2 linked regions of the Homo sapiens genome follow. The protein of the gene in region 2 purifies or fractionates together with the protein of the main gene of each other region. This does not show direct contact. Each region holds a gene or a part of one and is shown on either strand. Other genes may lie near its edges.

The links. The genes of interacting proteins can lie anywhere in the genome.
Region 1: the proteins of RTCA (region 2) and GM2A purify together in Homo sapiens (affinity purification with mass spectrometry; one large-scale study listed by BioGRID and IntAct). This does not show direct contact.

The regions. Positions count from the first base shown.
Region 1 is NC_000005.10:151,259,685-151,263,184, reverse strand, and holds part of GM2A (ganglioside GM2 activator isoform 1 precursor), read right to left. Parts: intron 3,431-3,500; coding exon 3,269-3,430; intron 1-3,268.
Region 2 is NC_000001.11:100,290,216-100,293,269, reverse strand, and holds the end of RTCA (RNA 3'-terminal phosphate cyclase), read right to left. Parts: intron 1,868-3,054; coding exon 1,766-1,867; 3' UTR 501-1,765; downstream 1-500.

The DNA.
Region 1 (3,500 bases), on a different chromosome or scaffold from region 2:
GGAGGCAGAGGTTGCAATGAGCCATGATCGCGCGACTACACTCCAGTCTAGGCAACAGAGTGAAACTCCATCTCAAAAAAAAAAAAAAAAAAAAAGAAATTGGGGAAAAAGAAGGAGCAGAGGGGATCTGAGGCTAATTTTTCCTAAGCACAAGTGACAGTAAAGACAGAGGAGATTATGTAGGCCCAAATTTATGAAAGGTAATAAAGCAATGGAAAAGGAGAATAGGGAGTAAAACCCATCTTAATGGTTTGTGAAGAAGCCAGGAAAAGCAGGCTGAGGGCAGAAGAGCGGGTTTGCCAGCTTCTTGTTTCCAAGTCAGCTGCATAGCCCCCTCCCTGGAAACACCAGTGGCTGCATGGTGATGGCAGCAGAGGGAGCATGGCGGACGGCCTACCAGGAGAGCCCACACTCCAGATCAGCAGAGGGAGCACACAAATAAATGTGTGTGACCCTGGCAGAGAAACAGTCCAGTGTCCATACATAGGGAATGATTCCATCCCTTGGCCCAGATCCAAGGGTACAGGGCTTGACCCCCTATCACTTGAGGAACAGTAATGGAAACACAATGACTCTGCTAGGAAAAGGCTTGGTAGGAGGTGCAGGGGAGCTGAAAGCTGCCACATATCCAGGACTTGTGTCTGGGTCAAGAGACTGCAGGATAAGACAGATACTAATCGAAATGTTCACAAGATATAAAATGTACTGAGCATGTCCTGGGTGCCAGGCCCTGTGCAAAGCACTTTCCACATGATTTTCTAACTCAGGTATTGCTCAAGGAAAGCCCATAACGTAGGAGCTGTGATTAAGACAGGTCTAAGGATAATGATAGAAACACAGAATCCAAATCAGGAATCTTCTAAATAATTAACACAAAACTGGTACTAGAATAGATCTGGATCAGGAACAGACTGAAGGGCATAGAGGAGCATCATATAAAGGTAGCAATTTTAGCTAGAGAGGAAAGGACCATATTAAATGGTGTTGCAATGGATATATGAAAAGTCTTCATTGTTTTCTAAGAAAATATAAAAACATACACCCCTAAAATAGTCAATGGATGGAAACAAACAGGTTATTCCCAAAGTAAATACAAAAGGCAAATAAACTTATGAATAGACATCTACGCTCACTAGGAATGATGCAGGTTTATTCAAACATTGGGAGGCACTTTGGCAAAATGTATCAAAAGACCTAAAAAGTGTGTATCTAGAGAATCAGAAAATTATAAAAAGATGTACTATAAGAATAATTTCTACAAAGGTGGTTACTACAGCAAAACAAAAAACAAACAAACAAAAAAAACCCTCTGGCCAGGTACAGTGGCTCAAGCCTATAATCCCAGCACTTTGGGAGGCTGAGGCAGGTGGATTGCCTGAGGTCAGGAGTTCAAGACCAGCCTGGATAACATGGTGAAACCCCATCTCTACTAAAAATACAAAAAGTAGCTGGGCATGGTGGCAGGTGTCTGTAATCCCAGCACTTTGGGAGGCCGAGGCAGGCACATTGCCTGAGGTCAGGAGTTCAAGACCAGCCTGGCCAACATGGTGAAACCCCATCTCTACTAAAAATACAAAAATTAGTGGGGCGCAATGGCAGGTGCCTGTAATCCCAGCACTTTGGGAGGCTGAGACAGGAGAATCGCTTGAACCCGGGAAGTGGAGGTTGCAGGGAGCTGAGATTGCGCTACTGCACTCCAGCCTAGGCAACAGAGTAAGAACCTGTCTCAAAACAAACAAATAAACAAACAAACAAATAAAAACTACCCTGGAAACAAACTAAATGTTCAACAATAGACTTGTTATATAAATTATGAAAGATCCACATCAGAATATTTCTGCCATTAAAAATGATTGGGTGGGCTGAGCAAGGTGGCTCACGCCTATAATCCCAACATTTTGAGAGTCTGAGGCAGGAGGATTGCTTGAACTCAGGAGTTTGAGACCAGCCTGGGCAACACAGGGAGGCTCCGTCTCCATAAAAAATAAAAAAATTAGGTAAGCATGGTGACATGAACCTGTGGTCCCAGCTACTCAGGAGGCTGAGGTGGGAGGATCCCTTAAGCCCAGGAGGTCAAGGCTGCAGTAAGCCATGATCACACTACTGCACTCCAGCCTGAGCAACAGAGTGACACACTGTCTCTAAAATTACAATACATTAAAATAATAAAATAATGATTGGATAAAAAAAAATTGAATAAGTAGAGCCACCTAATCCTTGGAAAGATATGGACATATAGTATGAGGCAAAAAAAATAGCAAGTATAATAGCACATATCATATAATCCCATGAGTATAAGTGTGTATATATTTACAAACACATAAAAATTCTGATGGGATATATAAAGAGCAAACACTGACTATCTCTAGGATTTAGATTACTGGAGGACATTTACAATGAGCACTGCCTATTATCATACATATCCATTAAAAATAAATATGTGTGTTATGTATGTAATTGTATGGGGGAAAGTTGCAAAGAATATCCTATAAGATGTTAAAAGTGCTTATCCCTTATCACTAGGTAGTGAGATTTCAAGTGATTTATTTTATTTATTTATTTATTTTGGGACAGAGTTTCACTCTGTCACCCAGGCTGGAGTGCAGTGGTGCGATCCTGGCTTTCTGCAACCTCTGCCTCTTGGGTTCCAGCAATTCTCCTACCTCAGCCTCCTGAGTAGCTAGGATTACAGGCACATGCCACCACGCCCAGCTAATTTTTGTACTTTTAGTAGAGATGGGGTTTCACTATGTTGGCCAGGCTGGTCTCAAACTCCTGACCTCAAAAGATCCACCCACCTCAGCCTCCCAAAGTGTTGGGATTACAGGCATGAGCCACCACACCTGGCCTATTTTATTTATTTTTTGACCACTTGTGTTTTCTAAAGTGACTATATATTACTGGCTAATTGGTATATCAATTTTATAATTAACAACAAAACCAAATTGGCCAACCAGAGCTGTCAGACAATAATGAGCAGTTGGCCACCAGGCCCAGAGAAGGCCAGGACGCTTCTGCCAGGTGCAAGGTATCCGTCACTCCTGCCCTCACCAGGAAGTTGCTGGCGCTGACATCAGAGATTCCTTTCAATCTTATGATCCTGAGATTCCATGAACCTGTGAAAGAGTGTCTGAATCTACATGTCCTGTACTATTCTCTGGGAATCCAGGATTCTGAAATTCTTCACAGTTCCCCAAGCATACATGCCCCAGTACCCCTGCTGGCCAGACCCTCGCACCTCCCCTTCTCCACCCACCCCCAGGCTCACCTTCAGAGGAGAACTCAGGGGGACACTGGTGCTGCCCATGACACTGAGGGTCACATTTCCAGGAACGATGATGGGGTCAGGCTCCAGAGTCAGGCTTCTGATCACCGCAGGGTCCTTCCCTTCATCACAGTTATCCCAGGAAAAGCTACTGAGCTGGGATGGCTGGGGACAATCAGGCAGCAAGGAAGGAGAAGAAGAAAAAGGTTGACAAAAGAAACTATCACAGATCACA
Region 2 (3,054 bases):
AACAAGTGTAGTATTACTCTAAAAAAGTTTTACTCTAAAATAGAAAGATATATCTCAACTATTACAGAAATGAATAACTTACAAAACTTACCCACTATGTGAAAACATAAACAGCAAGTAACACTATTATCAACTTTAAAGCAAATTGAACCCAACTGTCCAAGGTCATAGATATCACAGACAAGGATAAGAATAATGACTATGTACATGGCAACTTTTTTCATTTTACTGTTCCATACAGACTAATTCAGGACTTTCTAAATGTATCATAGAGCATCCTCTGGATCTACATTTTGGACTATGTTTTAATCATCATGAGAAAAGGTCCAAGATAGACCCAAGTTTTAATGAATTACACACTCTATTGTAGTACAACACATTAAGCTGACATACCAAACTGATTTCCTTTGAGTCACAACCTCAACTGCTACCGGGAACAGGAAAACATCTAAATGTGGAAGCATGTTGGGTGTAAGATAACAGAGAATAATGAAAGCACATTCCATTTGAAAGACACTCATTTATTTGTTAATAACACAAGCCAAACAAAAACATATCTGGGGATGAATCTGCGAAACCTACTAGGGTTAAAATTTTACTTCTCTTAATTGTTTGGCTTCCAAAACATATTTGGCTTCCAAAACAGATTCAAATTCAAAAAATATTTACGACCAGCTGTGGTGGCTCATGCCTGTAATCCCAGCACTTTGGGAGGCCAAGGTGGGCGGATCACGAGGTCAGGAGATGGAGACCATCCTAGCCAACATGGTGAAACCCCGTCTCTACTAAAAATGCAAAAATTATCTGGGTATGGTGGTACGTGCCTGGAGTCCCAGCTACTCGGGAGGCTGAGGCTGGAGAATCACTTCAACCTGGAAGGCGGAGGTTGCAGTGAGCTGAGATTGTGCCACTGCACTCCAACTTGGTGACAGAGTGAGACTCTGTCTCAAAAAAAATGAATAAATAAAATAAAAAATAAATATGTACAAAGTGCCCACTAGGTAGAAGGTATATATCATTAGAATGAGACAATGCCTATTAAATGTTATTGTTGCCGGGTGCACTGGCTCACGCCTGTAATCCCACCACTTTGGGAGGCCGAGGCGGGCAGATCACGAGGTCAGGAGTTCGAAACCAGCCTGACCAATATGGTGAAACCCTGTCTCTACTAAAAATACAAAAATTAGCTGGGCATGGTGGTGTAATACCAACTACTCAGGAAGCTGAGGCAGTAGAATTGCTTGAACCCGGGAGGCAGAGGTTGCAGTGAGCCAAGATCACACCACAGCACCCCAGCCTGGGTGACAGAACGAGACTGTCTCAAAAAAAAAAAAAAAAAAGGAAAATGTTATTGTTGTCACAACAAGTACATTTGCATAAAGTTGCCTCATTATACTTGAGATGTGATTTCAGCAAAGATTAGAATTATACCCAAATTACAGATCAAATCTATATCCCTGATTTAATTAATTACATAAAAAAGAAAAATGTATTTACTTCAGGTGTAAAGAATATTTTATTTCAATACTTCAATATTGAAATCAGCTATCACACATATCCACCAACTGATATTTCATTGTCCATCTCTCAGGAGATATTCAAAGTGAGATTAATTTAATGAAGCCTTCTCAGCAAACCTAGAACACTGTACTTCATCTTCAAATTTAAGTCATAGCCTTTAATAAGTTACTTCCTAGTCATTATTTTATAGTATTTATGAAATAGTGCAATATATCAATGAGGTATCATTTAAGAGGCAAATACTCTATAGATTTGGATTTGTCATCCCAATTCCTTGGCATTCAATAATATAAGTATCTTTAGCGGCGTCTTCTTCATCTTCTGATTTCTTCACAATAAATTTAGCCTGAAATCAGAAGAGGAGTATATAAGTAATACGAAGAGAGATGGAGGAAAGAGCCCACAACTCCAACTTATGTAGGCAGAGAGTTAATGTCAAGCCCATTTTATTGAAAAACCTACAGAGACACAAAGATCAAATGATTGATGAGAAAGAAACTTAATAGCCTCAAGATAACACATTTCATTGTACAACCATGGTTCTTCTTCAGAGGTATACATACCTGTGAGTTTTGTCCAAATATATATGCCTGGGCCCCTTCCACGCACACTGAATCAGAAAGCTCAGATGTACAGCTTAGGCAAATAACAATTTTGAAACCTCAAATGGTAATTTTAATGCAACTGTATTCCCTATGCCCTAAAATTTTTCTGAAACATTTCTACTTTTATCTTGTCAAGTCACAAATTACCCTTTAATTTCTTTACATTTTTTCTTGCTAATTTAGTTCCCTATATATATCGTTCAAAAGATCCAGTTCAGAGAAGGTATGTGGGGAGGAGGGGTGGTGGTGGTGATTAACATCTTCCTTCATCTTTAATGTACTGGGCTTAACATCACATTTTTCACTTAGTAACTAAAGTTGGCTTTGAAATATTTTACCTGTATCATTGTATTTTGCTTTTGTTTTTGTTCTGTTTTTGAGACAGAGTCTTGCTCTGTCACCCAGGCTGCAGTGCAGTGGCATGAACACGGCTCACTGCAGCCTCAACTTCCTGGGTTCAAGGGATCCTCCTGCCTCAGCCTCCAGTGTAGCTGGGACCACAGGCACATGCCACCATGCCTGGCTAATTTTTAATTCTGTTGTATAGGCAGGGTCTCACTTTGTTGCCCAGGCTCAAACTCCTAGGCTGAAGTGATCCTCCTGCGTCAGCTTCCTAAAGCGCTGGGATTACAGGCATGAGTCATTGTGCCTGGCCTATATCACTGTATTTTGAAAACATCATTATTTTTAAAGCAAATGTGATTCATTTTAACAAAACTAAATTTAGAATCAAAACAACTAGCCAGGTGCAGTGGTGCACACCTATAATCCCAGCTATTCTGAGGTGGAAGGATCATTTGAGTTCAGTTCAGGAGGCTGGCCTGGGCAACACAGGAAGACTCCTCACAACTCCCATCAACGTCTTAAAAAAAAAAATCAAAACAATTAAATAGGTTAAGTTTGTGGCAAAAGGATTTCAAATATGCCT